7 linked regions of the Homo sapiens genome follow. The protein of the gene in region 4 purifies or fractionates together with the protein of the main gene of each other region. This does not show direct contact. Each region holds a gene or a part of one and is shown on either strand. Other genes may lie near its edges. The genes, in order: NMD3, GDA, CHFR, DTX3, NDUFS6, NUP35 and FARSB.

Region 1 (3,500 bases), on a different chromosome or scaffold from region 4:
AAATCAATGTTTATTCTAAAAGATTAAGCAAGTATAGAAGACAGGGTCTTTCACACTAATTTCATTCAGTTTCTCATGATTCTTAACCTCATCATGTTAGAACTTAACAGATTTTTCAGAATTAATAGTTTTTTTCCAAGGCTTGATACTGTGAAGATTATTTTTCACGGATATTTTATTCAGCTTTGAATAACAGCCTTAACTCTAAATGCCTTCTTAACTGAACAATGTATGTGAAACGAAGTGAGCCTAATAAAAATGAACCTGAAAAAATGCTAAATGTCATCATTTTTAGCTGCAAATTTATTTATTTATCTTTTGGAGACGGAATCTTGCTCTATCACCCAGGCTGGAATGCAGTGGCATGATCTTGGCTCACTGCAACCTCCACTTCCCAGGTTCAAGCAATTCTCCTGCCTCAGCCTCCTAAGTAGCTGGGACTACAGGTGCATGCCACCACGCCTGGCTAATTTTTTGTATTTTAGTAAAGATGGGGTTTCACTGTGTTTTCCAGGCTGGTCTCGAACTCCTAAGCTCAAGCAATCCACCCACCTCAGCCTCCCAGAGTGCTAGGATTACAGGCATGAGCCACCGCACCCGGCTAAATTTATTTTTGCTCTACAGATAATATCAGGTATTTTGATCGAGAATGAAAATGTGATTAGAAAAGGAACAATCACAATAAATCTTGGATTTACCCCACCAAGAAAAATTATTTAAAATGAAGCCAGGCATGATAGGTGACACCTGTAATCCCAGCTACTTGAGAGGCTGAGGTGGGAGGATCACTTGAAGCCAGGAGTTCGAGACCAGCCTGAGCAACATAACAAGACCCCGTCTCTACAAAACGTGTTTTAAACATTAGCTGGGAGTGGTGGCATGTGCCTGTAGTCTCAGCTACTCAGGAGGCTGAGGTGGGAGGATTACTTGAGCTCAGAATTTTGAGCTGCAGTGAGTGATCATGACACTGCACGCAAGCCTGGTCAATAAAGCAAGACTCCCATTTCTTTTTTTTTTTTTTGAGACTGAGTTTTGTTCTTGTTGCCCAGCCTGGAGTGCAACGGCGCAATCTCAGCTTACCACAACCTCCACCTCCTCGGTTCAGGCAATTCTCCTACCTCAGCCTCCCAAGTAGCTGGGATTACAAGCTTGCACTACCACGCCTGGCTAATTTTTTTGTATTTTTAATAGAGACAGGGTTTCTCCATGTTGGTCAGGCTGGTCTCGAACTCCCAACCTCAGGTGATCCACCTGCCTAGGCCTCCCAAAGTGCTGGGATTACAGGCTTGAGCCACTGCACCCAGCCTCCTGTTTCTTTAAAAAAAAAAAAAAAAAATTTTGCTATTATACCTTATCTGCAGTTTCAGAAATCTCTAAATTGATTTGTTATTTTCAAAAGTGTGAACTCCTACCTCTTACCCCTAAGAGTTACATTCATCCTCTTTAACACAGGAAAAAAGGGAAAAATCTAAAGCCTTACCACATCTGGAACTCTATCTGAGTTCATTTTGTTGACATGCTCATCATTTAAGTTACAGTTGGCCAAATCAAACCTGAAATGTAAACAATGAAAAACTTAGTGACCATTTACCCTTTGTGTGTAACTTTTTATTTTATGGCTATCACCTAAAACTTCCTAAAAATCAAACATTTAATATGCTTCTCACTTTAAAAGTTCTGTCATTTATTACACAATGAACATGCTTCTGTAGATGCTGGTAAAGACAATAAGGAACTCTGAGTTTCACTTATAATCAATTATTGTCCACCTTGCCATACATTTGTAAAAGCAAAACAGACTTACATATCAGTCCAACTTTAGAATTCAATTAGTTGCTTCCTTCTAGTTTATTTTAAACAAACAAACAAAAAAAAAACACCTCATTCTGTAGTAAAAGAAACTGAAATCCTAAAAGCAAAAGCAATATTTGAGGGTTTAATCACACACTCACTGAAAAACTCTGATTCAGAAAGAACTGATCTATGCCTTTACAAGCCCTTTGTATATATATAGTTGTCATATCTTAAAAGTGAGTTATCTGAGCAGTAGCAACTGCACAATAAAAAAGACCCAATCTGCAAAAGCAGTTCTAAATATGGATACAACCATATAACTTCAAGGCTCAATTAACAAAATCTTACAACAAATTACTCTTTAAGATTATAACCAAAATGGAGTAACTATGGGCTTCTGTCCAACCCAGTTTAATTTAGTTATCAACAATAAAATGAGTTATAAGGCTCCTAAGAACCCTTCGATCTTTTTAGAATAAACAATGTTAGTATTTTTAGGTAGTTTTGCTGGTTCCCAAAGAAAATTTGCAATCCTAATTGGCAGTTTAAAATATGAAATAATACAAACCCTAACACCAGGTCTCCGGGATTTAGAAGATGTCCCAAATGAGTACGACAAAAATACTGTTTATCTGTATTCATTTCAGATGTCTTCTGTACCCAGACTTCCCCGAGGGTATGCTTAAGAGGAAAGAAAATGTACTCTTCAATAATCTAAACATAACTCTAAAAGCATCTCAGAGAAAAGTTAAATACAATATTGATTTTTGGTTTTCTAATTTTTAAAGACAGAAAATTTTTTGTATTTTTCTGATGTATGAAACACTGTCAAAATTAACAAATTACTGAATCATGAGTATAGAAAGACTCACAAACAATTCATAAAAATAAATCATTGACTTTTTCTAAGATTTTATTCAAGACTTTTATAAAACATTAATAATGTCCCTAAAAATATATATATGTAGAATTTTCAAAAGAAATGTTTTCACAGGAAGATGGGCCAACATAGGCAGAGTGAACAAAATAACTGAAAAGGTAGGGGAATCTTAAAGCAAGAACGTATTCCAAGCAAACTCTTGCTTGACACAAGGGTTCAGAAAATCAGGGTCCAGACAAAACAGCCTAGAAATCCTGGTAGTAAACCACTAGAGAGGCCAAATCTTTATCAAATTAATTTTTAAAGTATCTACTAGTGTAGACTACAATCATTCTCTACATCTGCTATATATAATATAGTACATCTGCTATATATAATATATATATAGCAGAAACAACATCCCAATTTTTAAACTAGAAAACTATTAATTCCCTTTCTAACATGCCAACACCTTTAACAACAAAGACAGACCAACTGAAGTGAGATCGAGAGAAAAATACTAAGAGTTATAAATAAAATTAAGGAATCTCAAAATAAAGTTATGAAAAGAATCAAGTGTTTCTTATTGCAGTTGGTCAAAGAAAAAGAAATGAAAAAAATGAAAAGAAATAGAGCAGAAGGAGAAACTGAAATAAAAGACAAGTCTCAAACTTAAGAACTGCAAAAGAAAAGTCAATTAACAGGGAGACTACATTTTATTTAACAGGATTTACTTTCTAGCTATTAGACTTCTGCTTGTAAGAAATTTATTAACCTCTTCTAGCTATTTTTTAAAAACCAAGAAAATACAGTATCTGGTTTTATATCTGCCTGAAGGGAAATGATA
Region 2 (3,500 bases), on a different chromosome or scaffold from region 4:
TTCCTTATAGATGCTGGATATTAGACTTTTGTCAGATGCATAGTTTGCAGAAACTTTCTCCCATTCTGTTGGTTGTCTGTTTACTCTGTTGGTGGTTTCACTTGCTGTGCAGAAGCTCTTTAGTTTAATTACATCCCATTTATCAATTTTTACTTTTGTTGCAATTGCTTCTGGTGTCTTTGTCATGAAATCTTTTCCCATGCCTATGTCCTGAATGGTATTGCCTAGGTTGTCTTCCAAGGTTGTTTTTTTGTTGTTGTTTGGTTGGTTTTTTGTTTTTTTTTGAGACTGAGTTTCTCTTTTGTTGTCTAGACTGGAGTGCAATGGTGAGATCTCGGCTCACCACAACCTCCGCCTCCTAGGTTCAAGCAGTTCCCTTGCCTCAGCCTCCCGAGTAGCTGGGATTACAGGCATGCGCCACCACGCCCAGCTAATTTTGTATTTTTTAGCAGAGACAGGGTTTCTCCATGTTGGTCAGGCTGGTCTCGAACTCCCGGCCCTCAGGTGATCCACCTGCCTTGGCCTCTCAAAGTGCTGGGATTACAGGTGTGAGCCACCACACCTGGCCCTTCCAGGGTTTTTATAGTTTTCGGTTTTACATTTATGTCTTTAATCCATCTTGAGTTAATTTTTGTATATGATGTAAGGAAGAGGTATCAATTGTTTTTAATTATCTCCAGTATTCTAGAGTGAAGCCCATAGTGACACCACGTTTTTCCCTCTCCTGCTCTGAGACTTTGATGGGTGAACTGGGCAACATTGCTAAAACCCGTGATTTGCACATTCAGGTGGGTATTCTTCTTCTCTTTATGCCTCTATGCAGACCTGCAAGATTTCTCAGCACCCTTAAATCATCATTTCCAATAATCTGTAGTTGTTTTACTGAGTAATCTGTTTCTTCAACTGAGATATCCTAGAGTCACAGCATAACAGGAGAGAAAGGACCCCTGTAGATATCACCTAATCCAATTCTTTCATTTTGCAGATAAGAAACCTGAAGTTCCTTATACCCTCAATGTTTTCTGATCAGTCTTCTAAAGACAAGAAAATCGTTTTAAGTAGTGGCAAGATCAATAACAGACTGTGATCTGTTCTCTGTAGGATACATTTAATGCATTTATTTCCTACTTCTCTTTCACTTGATACTTTCTCAGTGTGTTCTGTACCTTCATTCTTAGAGAAACCAGCTATTATTTGAAAAGCAAAAAGAGCCTAATTTCCACCTTACAAAATAGCATTTAAAATCCCTTTTGTTCTGAGTTTCTTAATTTAAAATCAGAACAAAAAAGTATACCTTGCTTTGTCATTAAATTGTTGCAATTTAGGAATAAAACACTTTTTTAAAGCTTATATCTGGGTTAAAATTGAGAGTTCCCCTTCTCCCATCCAAGCTTAATTACATACTGTACTAAAATTTCTCCTCTTAGGAGTTGACGGTCTTATAAGAAAGGTCAGATCAGGGCAGAGACAACACATTGATTCTTTACCATTTGTAAATCAGTGTTTTTTTGGTTTTTGTTTCCCAAATCTATTTTCTTAGGAACCATTAACCGCTCTCACCTTCCCTATTATTGTTATTATTATTTGCAGCCTATAATTTTTGAATTTTTAATTCAGTCCCACACATTTCTCTGCTGGAGATAAAATTCAAAACTTACCTGATGTTTCTGCTTTGCAAACAAAATGCTTCTGTCGCCGACAAAATAAAATACACATGAACATTTAAAAATACATGAAAAATAAGATGAGAAGAACACACAACAAAATCAAGTTTATCCTTGCTAGAGAGATGCATGTGGATGTATGCACATTTACTCACATTTATCCAAATGACTCGAATCATCAGATTGTCCTTTCTTCTGTTGCTGTCCATGCATTTCATCGGTGGTCTGGGACTTCCTCAAGGCCAGGGATGGAGTTCATTGTCTGAGTAAAACACGTGTTTTCAGAACATTGCTATTTTTTTCTTTTAAAAATTTAGCTACGCATATTCTAAATGGCATTGCCATTCTTGGAAGTATTAATTATGCCCTCTTAGATTTTGTGGTGCCCTAGAGAAAGGTCTTAGGGGCCTTTTTCAGTGTGGGGGCATAGGACTTATTGTTTTGCTTGCATGTGGATTCTTATGGGCTGTTTCTTGATGACCGTGGAATTTTCTAGCTCAGCTATTTTCAAACTCTTTTTTGGAGAACTCATTCTGGAAACTAACAAAGGGCACAGAATGGAGACAGGGTCCCAGAGTCTCAATCCTGCTGCATCCGGAGGGGCAGTGCTTTTATGCCTTCTATATATTGGGTTTCTGTGAATTTTTATATGAATAATATATTCAGTGCCGAGAGAATTTGGAAAATCACTCATCTAGCCCAACCCTTTTTTTTTTTTTTTTTTGAAAGATGGGAAAATTGCTGTCCAAAGAAAAGAATGACTTTCTCTAGGACACATAGCTGTCAGAACTTGGGCCAAACCCAGCTCTCTTTACTCAAATTCCAGTGTTCATATAAGTGAACCCCACTGTCTGCTTTTTTATGAACACTGAGCTCTTTTCTTAAACGGCCAGTATGGCCAGTCACGGTGGCTCACGCCTGTAATCCCAGCACTTTGAGAGGCTGAGCCCGGCAGATTACTTGAGGTCAGGAGTTTGAGACCAGCCTGGCCAACATGGTGAAACCCCATCTCTACTAAATATACAAAATTAGCCAGGCATGGTGACACATGCCTGTAATCCCAGCTACTCAGGAGGCTAAGACAGGAGACTCACTTGAACCTGGGAGGCAGAGGTTGCAGTGAGTGGAGATTGTGCCACTACACTCCAGCCTGGGCGACAGAGCCAGACCCTATCTCAAAACAAAAGAAAGGCCAGCACCAGAAGAGGCAGGTTGCTAGGGTCCTGACTATCTTCAAGGAGGACTTCATATTTGTTCCAGCTGGAGGTCAGAATTTGAAAAGACTTTGTTGGAAAAATTTGTCTTGATATTATACATACACATACACACCCACACCCACATCCACACACACACACTACATGTTCATAATATTCAGTTTCTTTGTCATATACATTATATTATCTATGATGAATATAATTGTTTCTAACAAAATGCATGTGTAATCTTCATTGCCTTTCTATGTGGTCCCTTAAATAGGCAAGTAGAAAACCATTCACACCATTTTGAGGTAGGAAGTGTAATTTCTAATGGTATTTTACAGAAGAAAAATGAAAATATTATTTTTTTCTTGTAGAGCCATATAAGTGAAAATCGTGATGAAGTTGAAGCTGTGAAAAACTTATACCCCAGTTATAAAAACTACACATCTGTGTATGATAAAAACAATCTTTTGACAAATAAGGTAAGTTTTATATCATGACATAATCTGTTTAAAGGAGGGCATATTTATCTCAATTTTAAAATCTCAATAGTAATCTTCAGATTTCTGATATGAATACATTTCTTTAAAAATTTTTTTTAAAGTTTTAATTTTTGTGGGTACACAGAAAGTTTATA
Region 3 (3,500 bases), about 75 Mb from region 4:
AAAAAAGCCACCTGAATATGTGCAGTTGGGGGCAAGCATGTTGCATGTTCAGAGCTAGAATGAAGCCCATCGAAGCCGTGTTAGGGTGGTGGAGCAGGTGAGATTTCTTTCTTTTGTGTCTCTCACTGTTTTCCTGGGATGAGCATGTGGTGTTCAGTTTAAGAAACGATGTGGGTCTGAGGCCGGGTGCAGTGCATCACGCCTGTAAATGTTCAGTTTAAGAAACGATACGGGTCTGAGGCCGGGTGCAGTGCATCACGCCTGTAAATGTTCAGTTTAAGAAACGATACGGGTCTGAGGCCGGGTGCAGTGCATCACGCCTGTAAATGTTCAGTTTAAGAAACGATGTGGGTCTGAGGCCGGGCGCAGTGCATCATGCCTGTAATCCTAGCGCTTTGAGAGGCTGAGGTGGGAGGATCCCTTGAAGCCAGGAGTTTGAAACCATCCTGGGCAACATGGTGAGACCCTGTCTCTACAAAAATAAAAAATAAATTAGCCGGGCCTGGTGGTGTGCACCTGTAGTCCTAGCTACTCAGGAGGCTGAGGTGGGTGGATCCCTTGAACCCAGGAGGCGGAGGTTGCAGTGAGCTGTGATTGTTCCCCTGTACTCCAGCCTGGGCCACAGAGCGAGACTCCATCTCTAAAAAATAACAAACCAGAAAATGTGAGCCTCGCCTTTTTTCAGGGATACAACTCCTCGCCATCACAGTCCATCACAACCTGGGTGGCGTTAGCTGGATGTGGCCCCGCCCCGATTTCCATGAGACCCCTCCTGAACAATGTTTCCAGAAAGAGTTGAGCTCCTGAGCCTGGTGCTGACGAATTGTGTTGGAGACAGCCCTCAGCGCTGAGTGCGTGTAACGAGTGTCCTCTCTCCACAGGTGCGGTCTGCCTGCAGCCTTTCTGCCACCTGTACTGGGGCTGCACCCGGACCGGCTGCTACGGCTGCCTGGCCCCGTTTTGTGGTAATACTGGCTCTTCAGGCCCCAGTTGCTTTGACCTTTGCATGTTCTCTTGGTGAACTTGAGGGCAGGGGATGGTGGGGTCCATAGCCTGATGTTTATAGGGATGAGGCCACTGTTGGTCATCAAATGATACCTATTCCTGGCTGGACTGCAGAGGTGTGTCAAATTCGTGTTAGCTCAAAATCAAGCCTTAACAGAATTATTAGGGGAGATACTCCCAGGACAGAATCCTTGCAGCGGGGTTCTGCTGTTACGATACCAAGACCAGGTGCTGGGGAGACTCGGAGAGCTGATCTTTTTAAGGAGGGAGTGGAATGGAAATCATTTCTGCTTGTCCTCTGTTTAAAATTGAGTTTTATCATTGAACTTCTTATTCTTTCTAGAATCTGTAATGAAAAGAAATATGTTTATCCTCAGTGTCGGGCAGACAGTGCTTTCCTGCGACATCATTATAAACAGGTAACATTGCCCCTTCATCTCGGCAGAGCTCAACCTGGGTGACAAGTGTCTGGACGGCGTGCTGAACAACAACAGCTACGAGTCAGACATCCTGAAGGTACCGACTCGCTGCGGGCTGGGGAGCCGGGAGCCACATTTTCTCCCTAGTGCAGCCAGCTGGTTCTCTGCATTCTATTGGTGTTTATCTGTTTTACCTGACCCGCTGCGGGTTGGGGAGCCGGGAGCCATGTTTCCTCACTGGTGCAGCCAGCTGGTTCTCTGCATGCCATTGGTGTTTGTCTGTTTTTTCCGTATTCCAAAAATAGGTATTTCGTTTTTGTGCCTCCTGCCACCAATTCGTAGGAGCCGCTTCCCGCAGCTCTTGTTCCCGGCAGCTCTTGTTCCCACAGCTCTCGGTGAGGGCTTCTTGAAGGTGCCGCCCTTTAGCAAGACCAGGGCCTTTTCTCTGGTCCCTGTCTCTTCTGGCCATTTGCCTTCCCACGTCTAGGAAGCTACCTCGGTTTCTAGGATTTACATATGTTTAACATGCGCATTCGCCCTCCTGCCGAGCACTTTGCTGACAGCACACACAATGGTGGGGCCTTGAGGCTTGCCACAGACACACCTGGCAGGCGCCCGCTCAGCCCCACACTCTGCTTTGATGCCCACAGAAGGAGCTCAACAGCTCGTGTGTGTTTGAAGGGCACAGAGAACAGATGCCAAGTCCTCAGCTTTTCTTGTGCAACAGCCTGGGCTCGTTGCTGGGCTGTGTGCACTGTGGCCTGGCTTTCATGTCTCATTCACACCTGGGCTGTGTAGGTCTTGGCAGAACTTTTGAGAGACTCTGGTAACTGTTACACTGGAACCTTTTGGGACTTCCAGGAGGCTCTTGGACAAGACTTCTCGTGCTGCAGGCCGTGAACGTGCAGCCCTCTGCAAATGCCACTTATAAGGGTCTGAGCTTTGGCTTTGCACACTTTCAGGGGCCTTTTATGAAATGTTTTCTCTCGTTATTTCAGTGTTTCTTCCTCTAAACGAGTATTTCTTATTCCTCTCTTTTTTTGCGTCACAGAATTACCTGGCAACCAGAGGTTTGACATGGAAAAACATGTTGACCGAGAGCCTCGTGGCTCTCCAGCGGGGAGTGTTTCTGCTGTCTGGTGAGTTCTTCTGTTGCCTCCTGCTCTAAGGCGCATGTGAGTGTCCAGGGCTGTGCCTGCGTGTCTGCTCTCCCAGTGACAACTCCGACCTTCACCCACCCTGGAAGAGAGGAAAAAGATCCTGATGCTTTCAGGTTGTTTTTGTTTGTTTGTTTGTTTTTTGAGATGGAGTCTCGCTCTTGTTGCCCAGACTGGAGTGCAGTGGCATGATCTCAGCTCAAGGCCCCCTCGGCCTCCTGGGTTCAAGCGATTCTCCTGCATCAACCTCCTGAGTAGCTGGGATTACAGGCATGTGCCACCACACCCAGCTAATTTTGTATTTTTAGTAAAGATGGGGTTTCCCCATGTTGGCCAGCCTGGTCTTGAACTTCTGACTTCAGGTGATCTGCCCACCTCAGCTTCCCAAAGTGCTGGAATTACAGGCGTGAGCCACTATGCCCGGCCTTCAGGTTGTTTTTTGAAAGTTGAGCGTGGGCCGGGTGTGGTGGCTCACGCCTGTAATCCCAGCACTTTGGGAGGCTGAGGCGGGCGGATCATGAGGTCAAGAGATTGAGACCATCCTGGCTAACACGGTAAAACCCTGTCTCTACTAAAAAAAGAAAAATACAAAAAATTAGCCGGGCGTGGTGGCGGGCGCCTGTAGTCCCAGCTACTCGGGAGGCTGAGGAAGGAGAATGGCGTGAACCCGGGAGGCGGAGCTTGCAGTGAGCCAAAATCACGCCACTGCACTCCAGCCTGGGGGACAGAGCGAGACTCCGTCTCAAAAAAAAAAAAAAAAAGACAGTTAAGCATGAACCTGTATGACATATTCCAGCAGCTTCTATCCTTGTAGGGGAGGGTGGGTGTGGCCGACTGCCACTACTGCTGCTTGAGACCCTCACTACAGCAGTTACTGCTGTTACTGCTTGAGACCATCATTACAGGACTGAACAAAGGG
Region 4 (4,176 bases):
GTCTTCTTACCCCCTGGACACCGGGCGGGAAGACGTACTGGATGACAATGGTGCCGTACTTCTCATAGCTGGGCAGTAGGAGGGTGGCGTCCTTAGAGACCAGCATCCGCCCATTCTGGGGCTGGTTGCCCACCAGCTGCCCATAGAAGCGGCCGCACATGGGGCAGGCCTTTTTCACCTGCAGAGCCCGGGTGATGCAGCCCTCGCAGAATGAATGCCGGCACTTCTCCAATGTCTTGGCATTCTGGATCTCCCCCAGACAGATGGGGCAGGTGCTCTCCTGCTCTTCTGCCTCCTCCCGAAGGCGAGGAGGAAGAGGTGGGGGCAGGGGGGGAGGAGGAGGGGGGAGCCCCCGAGCTCCTGGGGGCAGAAGTGGGGCTGCTCGGAGAGGGGGTGGGCCTGCGCGGTGCATCTCAGGGTGCTCCCCTCCACCCCCCAGAGCCAGGCAGCCCATCAGCTCCCCCTGCCTCTGAGCTTTCTTCAGCTCTTTCTCTGCCTCTTTTAGCAGCCCCTTGAGAGCCTTCCGGGCTAGGTAGAGCCCATTTGGAGGGGCCGGGGGAGGACCCTGTGGGGAAAGCTGGAGAACATAGATGTCAGAAGTCTCGCCATCTATGAGGATGGACACACGGTGCTCCTCCCGAAGCCGGGCCAGCCGGGCTGGGGTCTCTTTGCTCAGGAAGTCCCACACGGGCTTGGACACAGTCACTTTGTTCTTGCAGGTGCCTCCACAGGCTGCCATTCTGGACAGGACGAACGACACTGCCCCCAGGGTGAAAGGGACTCAGGGTGGGGGGTCCCCATTTGACAAGTATCAGTGCCTCCTACTTCAGGTTCCTTCCAAACCCTCTATTACCTCTGTTTTCTCAAAGCCTAATCCCCAACCCTTCACCCAAATTCATATTCTGTCTCCCCTTATCTTCCAAACCCAAAACCCACTGAAGAGCAAAAAAGTTTCCAGAGCTATATTATCATCTAAGCCAAGTATCAGTCTTGTTTCTCCTGTCATTTCTCCCAGATCATAGAAACAACTTGCCCCTCCCACCTCTTGGGGAAAAATGGGCTGTTTAAAGGGGAGGGAGACTCTTTGCCCCTCCTTTTTGCTTACTTTGATCCTGAAGAGCTTAGAATTGGCATGCAGGCTCACTCTTCTTTCCCTGCTCCCTACTTGTAGGTCGTGTGACCTGGTAGGGCGGAAAAATGGAAGGAAAGTGAGAAACCCCTTCTCCCAATTCCCATGGCCCCCAACCCAGCAGCCCATGGAACAGAGACAGAAACCTGGGTATAGGTTACTAAGAATGGCATTACTTGGAACATGGAATGAAGGAAACCAGTTTAAGGGTGAAAATTGAGGATCCCTTGCGGGGGAGATACCTGGAAAGCCCATGGAAGATGATGGCAGCAGAAATCCTTCTATTTCCACTCAGCTGACCAGGACTGGGAGTGGGGGAAGGGTAAAAAGTTATGATGGCAAATGTTACCATTCCCCTCAGCCAACCCAGAAATAAAAACTCCCCTTCCATCTCCTCTCTTCTCTGCAGAATTCCATTATCAGCTTCTCCCCAAGTTGCTCAAGAAGGAACTTCAACATGCTAACCTTCCTCCTTTCTTCCCCAGCTCTGAGGCCCCCAAGAAAGCCTAGGGCACACATAAGAGAAGTCAGGAAAGAAAACGCCCACACAGGTGGAGGTCTTCTTGCCACCTCCCTCAGATCACATGGACCGGAATATTTCCTATGCTCCCCAACTCCTCGCCTGCTCCACATTGCCAAATAATTCAGCCCCTATTGCCAGGGAGCCTTCCTTGAGAGCTAACTCAGTCCCTTCTGCTGAAGTCTGTTAAGGATGTGAACAAAGTGGCAGCAGCCCCTGCAATAACAAAGTTCTCATTGTCACCTTTTAAACCCAGCACAGGCAGTGCTGTCTGTCAGCTCCCAAGTCTGGCATTTAGGGAGGGGCGGGGCTCACACAAGGGCTCAGCTGGAGGGGCCTGATGTTTTCCCTGAGTCTGGTCGCATTGGGCTACGGGGCTGTCTCCACAACACTTCCAAATGCAGCTCAAACAGAAAGAAGGGCCATTAGTGTGACCTCCATTTATTGACTGATCCAAGAAGGAGCAGCTGTCCCTTCATGCCTCCATCATCGTCCCCCAAGGCCAGATGCACCTCGAGATTCATAAGTGAAAATGGAACCCTAGAGTCTCAGCCCATACAGTCTATCCGCGATGCAACACTTCTCTCCCCATCACGGGGGACCCAGGACCTAGGTGTCCTAGGTCCAAGTCCTGCTGGCACAGAAAAGGGAGGCGGGGCCCCAGTTTAGGGTGGGTCTGTGATTCCTCTGTGGCAACCCAGGCCGGACAAGGAACCAGTCTCTCCCTCCAGACAGAGGCCAGAGGGAGGCACAGCCCGGATGGGCAAGGGTCCCTGGGGGCATCCACTGAAGCAGCTCCCGCCCTCCCCCCACGGCCTCCTCCAAGACCCGACCCGGAACCAACTCCCCACATCCCTCAGTAGCCAAAGCCCCCGGATCCCCACCGCCGGGTGGGGGTGCATGTCGGCCCGATCGCAGCCCTCAGAACCCCCGAATGGAGGCCAAGGCTGGAGGGTGCTAGAAAGATGATCGGCCGGGCACGGAGCGGGGAGCCCGGAGCCGCGCGCGGGGAGGGGAGGTGGAGGAGGGGGCGCCGGGGGAGCGGGGGGCGCGTGAGGGGTGCGAGCGGGGCCCGGGGGGCGCGCGGTGGGTGTGGGGGGCGCCGGGCTCACCTACCTCTCGTCAGCGCCGCCATTGCCGGTCACATGACTGAGGCTGTTGCTGGGATGACGGTCCGGGCCTTAGCAACAAGGAGGGGGAGACCCCGAAAGGTGGGGGATTGCAGGGGGTGCAGGCTGAGGAAAAGGGAAGGAGGGAGGACAGCACCCCCTTTCCCCTCACAGGTGATAATCACCGTTCCTTTGACCCCCTTCTATCCGCAAGCCCCTGCCCTTCCTCCCCAAAACAAAAATGGAGGCGCTGTCCCAGTCTTTGGAGGGAGGGGGTGGCGTCATGGAACTGAGGGTAGGAGGTTAAATCCCTGGAGACGCCACCCTACTCGCTCCCCGCTCCCGGCGGAGCACTCTCCCTTTTCTTTCCCAGCCAGCTGCGTAGCAGCTCCCAGGAGCTGGTGGTGGATGGGTGGGTGAAGTGTTGGTGGGTATATGGGGATTCGGGGGGAGGGCGGCAATTTTTTGAATCCTTATGGTAGAAGGGCCTTTGAGGAACAATGTGGGATGGGAAGAGTCATAGTAAAAAGAAAAGCATTGGCTCTAAAAAATAAACAAATCCGGGTACTAAACTATTTCAATCCCCTCCCTCATCTCCTGCCTCTTTCTAGATTGTTACCTCCTATGACCCCCACAACCTGCTCTCAGATGATCATTGGTCAGTGCCTCTGATTTTTCTTTCCACAAACAGGGATATGGAGGCTGGTGCAGAATGGGAAGCGAATACATTTTTTAAAAAGTGGCTCGAGGTGGTGGTGGTGTCAAGTGTATGGTTCAAATAGAGTTAAAAACTCTCAAAGAAGAAAAAAAAAAAGCTCTGCTCTGCTTCCCACATCAAGCAGTCTCCGCCCAATCCAACTCACTTCCCTGGGGCCACATCAAGCCAGGTTTTTCCACCAGCCAAAAGACTTCCTCAGCCAAGACAGGCAGGAATCTCCCAAACTGGCAACAACCTCTATTCATCCACCCCTTTTTCACTCCCCCCTCTAGACTGGAGGGCTAGTCACTTTCTTCACTTTCCCAGGACCCTGCTGTACTCTTCCTTCCCTCCAGGAAGAGGACAGCTTTCCCAGGAAGCCTGGGGGAATACTAGATTCCTTTTCTTTTAGCTGGTGGGCTGAGAGGCCTACTCACCTTTACAAAGATGGAGTGTTAGCAAGCCCAGAACTCTGGGAAGAGGAAGGGTCCCATCACCCTACTCTTCCCTGGCCCTCACTACCGCTGACCTCCCACAAGGTTAAAGACTAAGTTTTCCATTCCCGTGCACACCCTTCACAGCCTTTTTAAAAAAGTTCACAGCCATCTGTCTAGAAACCCACATCCTTAGTTAGGGGCCCAACACCTTGAACACCAGAATTCTTCAGCTGGTCTCTGCACCCTTAAACACAGGCTCCCTGAGAGAAGTGAAATTTAAAAAA
Region 5 (3,500 bases), on a different chromosome or scaffold from region 4:
CTGCCCCCCAAGTCCTAGGAATAGTGGCTGCTTCCTGCAGCTACTGACCCCTGGGTACCTCAGCACTCCCTCTCAGCTCTCTGGTGGCATCCCTCCTGTGACCAACAGTGTGTGTGTGCACGCACGAGAGCCAACATGGTTCGGGTGGTGCTGCGCTGGCCTCAAGAGATGGCTCAATGTAGACGAAAGATGTCACAAGTTTCTTCCACTGCTGATCCGAGGAGTGCGCTTGTCCTGGGTGATAACACAAGTTACCACCACGGGTGTGCAGAGCCTCTGGAGGTGCCGCGTGGGCCCAGCCTCAGCCTCACTTGCTTCCCCACCCGAGTGTGCCCTGCCCTGCCGGCCTCTTGGGAGAAATAAGAATGAGCGACACCAGCCACAGAAGCCTCAGGGAGGAACCTCTGGTCAATTCCTGCGTGGGCCTGAAGCCACTTCCCTCTTAATTTTTTTTTAATTGTGGTAAAATACACATAACATAAAACTTGCCATCTTTACCATTTCTAAGGACACCACGTATATTCACATTATTGTGCAACCATCACCACCACCCATCTCCAGAACCTTCCACCTTCGTAAACTGAAACTCCATTTCCATTCAACACTAACTCCAAATTCACCCCCCGCCCCCGGCAACCACCAACTACTTGCTACCTCTAAGAAGCGACTGTTCTGGTCCCCCGTATCAGAGGAATCACACAGTGTTCACACAGTACCTCTGAGTACCTCACGCAGTACCTCTGAGTACCTCACGCAGTACCTCTGAGTACCTCACGCAGTACCTCTGAGTACCTCATACAGTACTTCTAAGAAGCGACTGTTCTGGTCCCTCGTGTTAGAGGAATCACGCAGTCTGCTTCTGTGACTGGCTCACTTCACTGAGCGCAACGTCCTCCAGGCTTATCCGTGTTGTGGGGCGTGTCAAGCGTTCTTCCTTAAGGCTGAATAATATTCCACTGTCCATGGACAGATCACATTTTGCTTATCCGTTCAGCTGACAATGGACCCCCAAACTGCTTCCAGATTTGAGTTATAATGAATAATGCTGCTATGACACGAGTGTACCCCGGACCCCGCTTTCAGTTCTTTTGGGCACACGCTCAGAAGTGGAACCGCTGGATTGGATGGAAGTCCTAGTTTCAACTTTTTGAGGAACCCACACGCTGTTTTCCTTCACGGCTGTGCCATTTTACATTCCCAGCAGCAAGGCACAAAGTTTCAGTTGCTCCACGCCGTCACCCACGCTTGTTTTCTGTTTGGAGGGTCTTGGTAGTTTTCCTCTCTCGTGAGCACTACTCAATTATTTCCATTAACGAAATCTACACACTCTTCTCAGAAGGATAAAACTTCACATTATCGCAACAAAACAGCACGCCAGGTAGACATTTGCACCGCGTGCAACTGCTCCTAATCCTGGTGGCACCACGCACCTTGAAGTCTGCTACTGAAGAACTGAGGGCCAGGCAGGTGAGGCCACAGGGTCACAACTGGACTCAACCCTGCCAGCCTAGGTGTCTCAGAAAACGTGCAGAATCTCGCTGACCCAAACGCCCAGCTGTGGGCTGTGCGGGTCAGGGAGTGACTCCGCCCTGCCGAGCATCTGAGGAGAGAATCCATCCCACTGGCGGGCAGATGAAGGCACAAGCTGAAGCCCCCAGCTGTTCCGTGATCCTGACACACACAGGTGGAGAGGGGTGGCACAGAGTCGCACTCAAGGGATCCCAGCCTCCTGATGTTCCGGGTTTGCTGCCTAATTCCTTCTTTTCAAAAACTAAAAGTAAAGACCTTGTGTATAGACACTAACGTTTAACTTCAGTATTTTAAAAAAATCTAAAAGTGAAGCCTGCCCTCATGGTGGTGGCGAAGGCAGCAGCAGAGTAAGGCGAACACACACTAGAGGCTTCCCTGGGACAGGCGCTGCTCCAAGCCTTTCCTCATCTACACGGACTCAGTGCCCACGAGCCTACAAGCTAAGTCACTGAAGCACACAGCCCTCATAAGCCCATCAGCGCAGGAGCCTGAATCCGGATGCGGCCAGGCAGGGCAGCCCCAGCTACTAACCAAAAAAGCAAATGATGTCGCCAAGTACCTGGCTACCAGGCTGTTGTTATTGCTGTTATTATTACCACACCTCACTGCAGACCTCCCCCAGTCATCCCTTCTATTAGGGGACAAGTCATATCTGCTTTTAATTTTACTTGTACGACTATAAAGCAATGAAAATATTTCCATCAACAGCAGAGAAATACCTGGTCACTTCCAAGTTTGTTCCAGTCCCCCATCTGACTTATGTGGCCCCAGAGTGCCACCTGCTCCAGGACCATGTGAGGCCTGACTTCTGGCTGGGGGTGGCTGGCACATTCTTTAGCACGTGAGGAGTCTCCTCACAGGCAGGCCCGTCACAGGCCCAGGGGCCATGGATTCCTTTGAAGGTACCCCCGGTCAAAGCTGGGCAGGAGCCACACAAAGATACTTTCCACTGTTTTTCTGCAAAGACCAGCTCAATTATCTAGCTTCCTGCTATGCTTGTTCTACAGGTGAAGTTCAGATTCAGTTTATTTTTTTCTTTTTTTTCTGGAGATAGAGTCTTGCTCTGTTGCCCAGGCTGGAGTACAATGGCATGATCTCAGCTCCCTGCAGCCTCAACCTCCCAGACTCAATGACCCTCCCACCTCAGCCTCCCACGTTGCTTGAGCTACAGGCATGTGCCACCATGCTAGGCTAATTTTTATATTTTTTGTAGACACAGGGTTTCACCATATTGCCCAGGCTGGTCTTGAACGCCTGGGCTCAAGTGATCAGCCCACCTTGGCCTCCCGAAGTGTTGGGATGACAGGCATAAGCCTACTGTGCCTGGCCCAGTTTACTTCTTAAAGTATTACTTGACAAAACTAGAGGACAGTACGATCAGGGGCTGCCAGGGGTTGGGCAGAGGGAGGGATGAACAGGCAGAGCACAGAGGATTTTTAGGGCAGTGAACTCGGTACAACACTGTCACAGTGAATACATGTCATTACACATCTATCCAAACCCTAGAACATACAACATTAAGAGTGAACCTGTGGACTTGAGTTAGTAATAATGTATGAGTATCAGCTCATCAACTGTGACACAGGCAGCACACTAATGAGAGATGGCAGTAAACAGCAGAAACTGAGCTGGGGGGCTGTGAAAACCCTACTTTCTTCAGTTTTTCTGTAAATCTAAAAGTGTTCCAAAAAATTAAGTCTCTCAGAAGCCAAACAACTACTACTAAAAATAGTACTAAACACCAAATTTGTGTTGAAAGAAGGAAAGCTTGGGCAGGATGCCCACTCATCATGTTATCAACATGCCTTGAACCTCCAAGGTGTGAGGCCAAGACGTGCCCTGGACACTCAGGATGCTGAATGGGGGAAGGCACTGGAGGCTAGGCCGGCTGGAGCGTTGAGGTCACAACCAGGACGCCCTGGGTGAGCTGCCGGTCACAGACACTACTATCACACTATCCCGTACCCACC
Region 6 (3,369 bases), on a different chromosome or scaffold from region 4:
GTAAAAAGCGGGTCATTGCATTCCGTTGTTCTCTAGAAAGTCCATACTCAGTCCTATATCCATAGCAATTGGGCTGGTGTGTTTTTTTTCTTCTTCTTCTTTTACATTTACATTTTTATAGTCTCTCATAAAATGGCTTTTTTTTTTTTTTGAGACAATCTCTCTGTTATCTAGGCTGGAGTGCAGTGGCATGATCATAGCTCACTGCAGCCTCCAATTCCTGGCCTCAAGCAATCCTTCTACCTCAGCCTCATGAGTAGTTGGGATAACAGGCATGAGCCAGCTTGGCTGCATGTTTTTGAAAATAGGTACCCACTCTTAAATCTGTTTTTCAGGCTCAGTAGTAGTGGTTTAACTTTTAAGATTTCCAGTAATTAGATAAATTACTTGAAGCACTCCTAGTATTTTTTCGTATTTCAGACATTAACTCTCCCAGCTGTTTATTTTTTTACTTTCGTGTTTTAATAACCCTCTATGACTTTAATTTCAAGAACTGAAGCATTCTCCTTTAAGGGATAAAGTATTTTATTTTGATCATTTATGGGGAAGTACCTCTAAAGGATGCATTATATATGTTCTTTCTTTGGTAGTTTAACTTTTTCCTACTGACTTAGGGTTATGAAATATTCATTGTTTTGGGTGATTCTGCTATAGAGTACTAGAATGTAAGTTTCTACTCAAAGTGGTCCAAGAGTTTTAGAATTATGTTTTATTTCTTAAGTACTTCCCTCACTTGCAGCCATTCTTTCTTCTTTTCATTTTTGTTTGATCTCTGCCCTGTAGGCACCCAACCTATTTGTTGTTTTTCTTTGTGGTTAGAAATTTCATGTCCAGATTTTATACAAATGAATTTTCAGTTCTGATTGCAGTGAATATTTTACTCATATAGATTTTATTTAATTAATTAATTTATTTTGAGATGAGGTCTTACTCTGTCACCCGGCTGGAGTGCAGTGGCACGATCTTGGCGCATTGCAACCTTTCCTTCCCAGGTTCAAGCGATACTTCTGCCTCAGCCGCCTGAGTAGCTGGGATTACAGGTGCCCGCCACCATGCCCAGCTGATTTTTTGTATTTTTAGTAGAGGCGGGGTTTCACCAGGTTGGCCAGGCTGGTCTCGAACTCCTGACCTCAAGTGATCCACCCACCTCGGCCTCCCAAAGTGCTGGTTGGTATTACAGGTGTGAGCCATCGTGCCCAGCCTCACATAGATTTTTAATGTGTTTGGTTTCTGATTTATTTTTGAGACTCGAATTTTTTTTTTTCTTTAGGGTTCTAATTCAGTCTTCAGATAACTGAAGTTAGATAGCCATTTCTATGCGATTGGTAGTGGTTATTGTTTTCAAATTGAAAACAGCTTTATTGTTAAGACTATAAAAGAATAATATGTCATTGTAAAATATCCAAACCATACAGAACTTTATAAAGAAGAAAGTAAAAATTACTTAGAATTTTCTCATGCAGAGATATGGCTAATCAAATTTTGGTAACTGTCCTTTTAAGTGATTCTATACCATAAATATTTTGATGCTGAATTTTCTCTTTGTTATGATACTAAATTTCAGAATTTTTAAGTGATGCTCAATGTATAATGATTCGTTTATAATTTAAAATTCTTTATCTTTTCATAACCGTAGTATACCTAAATATATTACATATTAACATACACATATTGAAATAAATTATATATAGAACTGCAACTTTATAGTTTTTTTTCTAAGACCTGGATAATGGCAACGAGAGTAGCATTTTTAGAGATTTCAGAGGTAGAATCTGAGGATGGAGAAGAATGGCAGGATAAGACTAACTTTAAGGTATTTGCTTTTGAGTGACTAGTCACTGACAGAATTAGCCCATATCGGGGAAAACAGGATGATCAGCACTCTCCTGTTAACGTTCTAGACAGTTGGGGGCCATTTATCTTGAAACATTATCTTGTAGTAATTTGCATTCACATTGATAGTAGAAGCTGACGTTTTCTTTGGACAACTCTTTTTTTCAGGTTTCCTCAAGCATCTGCTTCCTACATATTACTACAATTTGCACAGTATGGGAATATCTTAAAACATGTGGTAAGGCTTAATTTTTTTCAGTTCAGAGTTTTGACTAAAGAGGGATAAGTTGTGAATTGAGAGAAACTGCTTCTGAATTTTGTGGGTTTTTTTTAAACTTAAATTTTTTTTTGAGTTTTGATATAATACATCCTTTGAAGTCTGGAAGGCTGGAAGTTGCCTAATTTTTGATAAAAAGAGATATAGTGAGAAGATATGGAGAATTGAGAGTTTGAAAATCCACCTCCTCTCACCTCCTTTCTTAAACAGTTTACAGTCTTAAAAAAGATAGATTATGCCAAGTATTATATTACTGTTTTCCAATTTGAGCTGCTTTTATTGGGGATAAAAGAAGTAGGAGGCAGTTCCTGAGCTTTTAGAGTTTTTAGAGCTTTATAGCTCTAAAATTTAAAAAATTATCTTACCTTGTGCTACAAGTTATAAGTAACAAATCCTTTTTTGTTGCTAGAGATTGACTTAACTCCTATACAAAATCAAATTGAGTAGTTTTAAATAACTTTATGGCAAGTGTTGCTTTGATCTCTTTACAATAAACATATTTTGAGAAGTATCTTACTTTCAGAGAATATGTACATGTTGATTGTAGAGAATTGAGAGATTGTTGAAGCTGTTCTAAATACGATTTTTGTTGAACTTTACAGCTTTTTACAAGGCATCAAATACGGAATGGAAGTAAATTTATCTTACCATGTTCCTATTTTCTAGTAGAATTCATTAGATGTAGATTTTATATATTTTCTATTTTAAGAGACAGTTTTATTCTTTGCAGATGTCTAATACAGGAAATTGGATGCATATTCGTTATCAATCTAAACTGCAGGCTCGGAAAGCCTTAAGCAAAGATGGGAGGATTTTTGGAGAATCCATCATGATTGGTGTAAAACCATGTATTGACAAAGTAAGTTATTGGTGATGTAGGCAAAGTAGCTTAATCTATATGAAGAGCACAAGACCAAGGATTGAAATTGGTCGTTGTGTCACTTGGTTTCACTGTGTCTGTTTTTCTTAGTTTGTAAAATGTGATGATGTTTATAGTACTCTTTGTGGTAAGCCGAAGGTATTTAATCATAGAGTTTAGAATTTAGAGGTAATCTGTCCTCACCTCTTCATTTTTCAGATAAAGAAACTGAGAGGGCTTAAGTAACTTGTCCAGAGTTGTTAAAGGTGAGGCCTAGATTTTAGGTCTCTTGACTACTAATCCATTCTCTTTCTTGTGCAAAGCGATACCAGATTCTTTAAAGTACTTAAATGGAATGGTACTATTTCAGAATGAATTAGTTCATATTAACATTAACTGA
Region 7 (3,500 bases), on a different chromosome or scaffold from region 4:
ACACCTAGTAAGATTGGCATTTTTTTAGACTGTGAAATGAATGAGGTTTCCTTTTATAATTTGAATGATAGATCTCTTCTCTGTACTTTTAATGATGATTTTACAGGAGAACTTTGGCCTTATTTTTATACTGGAACTGACTCAAAACCTCTTAAAATTTCTACAGTAACAGATTCTGTATTTTCTTTCACCTAGTAGACATAACTGAGCCAGTTAATCTAGTTTTGGCCATTCTGTATTTTGTCCAGTTTTTCTCATAAAAAAACAATATTTTTTATCTCAATTTCAGCAACTTCCAAAAAATGTGATTATGGGACCTACTTTATAATAAATTATGGGGTCAATGACAAAGTACTTTAGAAATTCTATGGTAAAATACTTGAAAAATATATTACTGAAGGAACGTATTATGTAAGAAAATCTATTACTTTTGTAATTGCCAATAAAAGCCCAATTTTTTTCTCAAAAAAAAAAAAAGACATACTTTAATTTAAAAGATAATTTTCTGATAGTTAGTATTATTTTTTTCCTAAGCCTTCTATCTTCACCTATTCAGTGCTTTTATAACACTACCTTAGGTGTAAAGTTAAAAAATGTTCAGGCTAAAAAATTGTACATTATCTTACCTTATTTTTCCTGCTGCCTTACTAATGTTACAGAAAGATCATCTTTGTACTAATCTATTTGTATACTTGAGAAATTGGCTGAGATTTCTGTAGTTTATAAGTTGCTATTCGTAATTTTACTACACCTCAGAATTATGTTTGAAATTATGTGATATCTAAGAGTGTTGGACTGGATGTTAGATTATTTGAGTTCTAGTTCTAACATTTACTAGCTGTGTAACTATGGACAATTACTTTGCCTGTCTGAACTCTATAGTCCAGACGAGTCTCTCTGGGCCTCCTTTTCATTTGTGAAATAAGGGGTTTGGATTATATGATCTTTATGGTTTTCTTTTTTGACTCTGAAATTTATGTGATTTTAAATTTCTGTAAGATTATTGTCAGGTAGCACTGACAAATTCAGTCTTTACATATGGTCATTGTATGAGCTGAGATGCTGAAACTGAAAGAAGATGTAAGCTTCTGTGTCTTTTTTTTTTTTTGCAAAGGAATTAGATCTTTTTTTACAGTAGTTCCTCCTTATCCACAGTTTTTTGCCTCCACAGTTTTGGTTACCTGCAGCAAACTGTGGTTTGAAAATAGGTGAGTATAGTACAATAAGAAATTCTGAGACAGAAAGAGACTACATTCACATTACTCTTATTATAGTATATTATTTTAATTGTTCTATTTTATTATTAGTTGTTAATCTCTTACTGTGCCTAATTTATAAATTAAACTTTTTCATAGGTATGTATGTATAGGAAGAAACATGGTATATGTAACATTTAGTCCTATCCAATGTTTCAGGCATCCACTGGGGAGCTTGAAACATATCCCCTGTGGATAAGGGGGTGCTGCTGAAAAATGAATGCAGATGCCTTCATTTCTCCGGTTATTATATTATCTTCTCTGTATATAGGTCCCTCCTGAGATCTGCCATCTCCTGGGAGGTGACTCAGCTTTCTTCACTATTGAAACAGTAATTTTATTAACCCCTTTGATTGAACATTGTTTAAACTCGAATTCTTCCTCTTCTCTTTTTGCCTCTCCCCATTCCCCTTCTTTTCTTTTCCCCCTTTTTACTCCTTCCTCCTCCTCTTCATTCTCTTGTTTTTCATTTTTCATTTTCCCTAATTATAAAAATTTGCCTCCTAAGTTTGAGATGCCCAAGGTAGAGGTTTTTTGGAGCCCAGCACCACCTTGTACAGCCCCAGCATTGCATAGACTCCTGTGGTTCCTCAGGTGGGACTTTGGCACATAATACTCGTGGCCAGAAGTGAATTTCTCTGCATATTGTGCAAATGTGGATATAATTCTTAATTTGGACAAAAATTTGAACTACTTATATTGTGGCAGTGGGAGGGCATCATGTAAAACAAAAATCATTACATATTTTGATAGAAATCCATCAGTTATTTTAGCAGGTTGTTGGTGGTGGAAATAGTAGGAATTCTGGTTAAGTGGAGTTTCCACATAATTAAAGCGTAACATTAACAGTTGGAATACAACTTGTAATCATTTCAAGTGAAAATTTCTTAAATATATTTACAGTTCCCTGCTGTAGTAAACATAAGGAATAGAGTGTAACTTCTCTGCAGTGGTTATGTTTAAGAAAATCTGTTACTCTGCTGTAGTGTGGTGCTTGAGATATTCTAAACTCTTTGCCACTGCATTAAACGTGATTCTAGTGGTGTTTCTTCTGTCATCTCCCTCTTGGCTGCCTTCATTCTGCTGCACTATCCCTTTGCTATCACTAGTTTGCTTCCCATTGTACCTATTATCCCTTCTAATTTTTACCAGTGTCTGATGGTCTCTGACTGTTTTTAGTTTTTATACTACCCCTCTCATTCTCATGTGGACTTGGGTGCCCACAGGATTTAGGTTTTAGAGTCATCCTATAAGAAGTTGTGTTTCTTTTATTTAGTGAATCATCTTTCTTTTACCCCTTTGACACTTTTGTTGTTGTTACTTTATGTTCTTGGTGATGTTTTAATTTTCTTTTAGCTTGAGATGGGAAAACTTTTTCTGTAAAGGGCCAGATAGTAAATATTTAGGCTTTTTGGCTCTATAGTCTCTGTTACAACTCAGCTATTGCAGTGTGTAAGTAGCAGTAGATAATATGTAAATGAATGGGTCTGTCTGTGTTCCAATAAATCTTTATTTACAAAAACAAGTATCAGGTATGATTTGGCCAGGGGGCTATTGCTTGCTGACCCTTGTTTAGATGGATTTGTGCTTTTCTGGGGTGATTGAGGTTGCCAGATATCTGAACTCAGTTAAAGCTGAAGTATTTTTCTGTCTGCTATGATTATAACACTTAATATTTTCATGTTGTTTTTGTCGTGGATATAATAATCCCATGTTCTTGTTATAGAAAATATGTATAATGTAGTTACTGCCTTATAGGGCTGACAACTTTTACTTTTTAAAGAGAGTTTAAATTATTTAATTTTTATCATTACTTTTTGGCTTGTTTTAGACATCTGAGAAGGAAATAATAAGTAAAGAACAAGGTAATGTAAAGGCAGCAGGAGCCTCTGATGTTGTTCTTTACAAAATTGACGTCCCTGCCAATAGATATGATCTCCTGTGTCTGGAAGGATTGGTTCGAGGACTTCAGGTCTTCAAAGAAAGGTAAGGAAATATGTTCCTTAAAGACTTTGCTAAGTTGGGTTTTCTTTTCTTTCCTTGTCATTATCAGCAGCCATGTTTAAATTTCTAGGAAAAAGCTTGTAGAGGAACGTAGCTTTAGCTCTCAATAGAGGGTTGATTTGAGGAATTAGATTCATGCAGATTGTAGCCATTTGAAAATTTCCATGAAAATTTTAGTCATAGCCATTCATCTTTGAGAACATATTTTAAAACTGGTGTTTAATGCTTTTATGGCGTCTT

What was found.
Region 1: the proteins of DTX3 (region 4) and NMD3 purify together in Homo sapiens (affinity purification with mass spectrometry; 3 studies listed by BioGRID and IntAct, with this or other methods). This does not show direct contact.
Region 2: the proteins of DTX3 (region 4) and GDA purify together in Homo sapiens (affinity purification with mass spectrometry; 2 studies listed by BioGRID and IntAct, with this or other methods). This does not show direct contact.
Region 3: the proteins of DTX3 (region 4) and CHFR purify together in Homo sapiens (affinity purification with mass spectrometry; 4 studies listed by BioGRID and IntAct, with this or other methods). This does not show direct contact.
Region 5: the proteins of DTX3 (region 4) and NDUFS6 purify together in Homo sapiens (affinity purification with mass spectrometry; 2 studies listed by BioGRID and IntAct, with this or other methods). This does not show direct contact.
Region 6: the proteins of DTX3 (region 4) and NUP35 purify together in Homo sapiens (co-immunoprecipitation; one large-scale study listed by IntAct). This does not show direct contact.
Region 7: the proteins of DTX3 (region 4) and FARSB purify together in Homo sapiens (affinity purification with mass spectrometry; 3 studies listed by BioGRID and IntAct, with this or other methods). This does not show direct contact.

The regions. Positions count from the first base shown.
Region 1 is NC_000003.12:161,245,311-161,248,810, reverse strand, and holds part of NMD3 (60S ribosomal export protein NMD3), read right to left. Parts: intron 2,476-3,500; coding exon 2,363-2,475; intron 1,554-2,362; coding exon 1,481-1,553; intron 1-1,480. UniProt on the Homo sapiens protein: Acts as an adapter for the XPO1/CRM1-mediated export of the 60S ribosomal subunit.
Region 2 is NC_000009.12:72,222,440-72,225,939, forward strand, and holds part of GDA (guanine deaminase), read left to right. Parts: intron 1-680; coding exon 681-788; intron 789-3,237; coding exon 3,238-3,345; intron 3,346-3,500. UniProt on the Homo sapiens protein: Catalyzes the hydrolytic deamination of guanine, producing xanthine and ammonia.
Region 3 is NC_000012.12:132,846,106-132,849,605, reverse strand, and holds part of CHFR (E3 ubiquitin-protein ligase CHFR), read left to right. Parts: intron 1-881; coding exon 882-965; intron 966-1,450; coding exon 1,451-1,521; intron 1,522-2,475; coding exon 2,476-2,563; intron 2,564-3,500. UniProt on the Homo sapiens protein: E3 ubiquitin-protein ligase that functions in the antephase checkpoint by actively delaying passage into mitosis in response to microtubule poisons.
Region 4 is NC_000012.12:57,603,448-57,607,623, reverse strand, and holds the start of DTX3 (probable E3 ubiquitin-protein ligase DTX3), read right to left. Parts: upstream 2,801-4,176; 5' UTR 2,766-2,800; exon of another isoform or gene 2,054-2,765; 5' UTR 1,893-2,053; exon of another isoform or gene 1,435-1,892; 5' UTR 1,372-1,434; intron 1,182-1,371; 5' UTR 1,135-1,181; coding exon of another isoform or gene 1,107-1,134; coding exon 1,106-1,106; intron 760-1,105; coding exon 11-759; intron 1-10. UniProt on the Homo sapiens protein: Regulator of Notch signaling, a signaling pathway involved in cell-cell communications that regulates a broad spectrum of cell-fate determinations.
Region 5 is NC_000005.10:1,804,407-1,807,906, reverse strand, and holds part of NDUFS6 (NADH dehydrogenase [ubiquinone] iron-sulfur protein 6, mitochondrial precursor), read right to left. Parts: intron 1-3,500. UniProt on the Homo sapiens protein: Accessory subunit of the mitochondrial membrane respiratory chain NADH dehydrogenase (Complex I), that is believed not to be involved in catalysis. Complex I functions in the transfer of electrons from NADH to the respiratory chain.
Region 6 is NC_000002.12:183,155,443-183,158,811, forward strand, and holds part of NUP35 (nucleoporin NUP35), read left to right. Parts: intron 1-2,001; coding exon 2,002-2,071; intron 2,072-2,840; coding exon 2,841-2,969; intron 2,970-3,369. UniProt on the Homo sapiens protein: Functions as a component of the nuclear pore complex (NPC).
Region 7 is NC_000002.12:222,642,593-222,646,092, reverse strand, and holds part of FARSB (phenylalanine--tRNA ligase beta subunit), read left to right. Parts: exon of another isoform or gene 1-471; intron 472-1,171; exon of another isoform or gene 1,172-1,208; intron 1,209-3,087; coding exon 3,088-3,242; intron 3,243-3,500.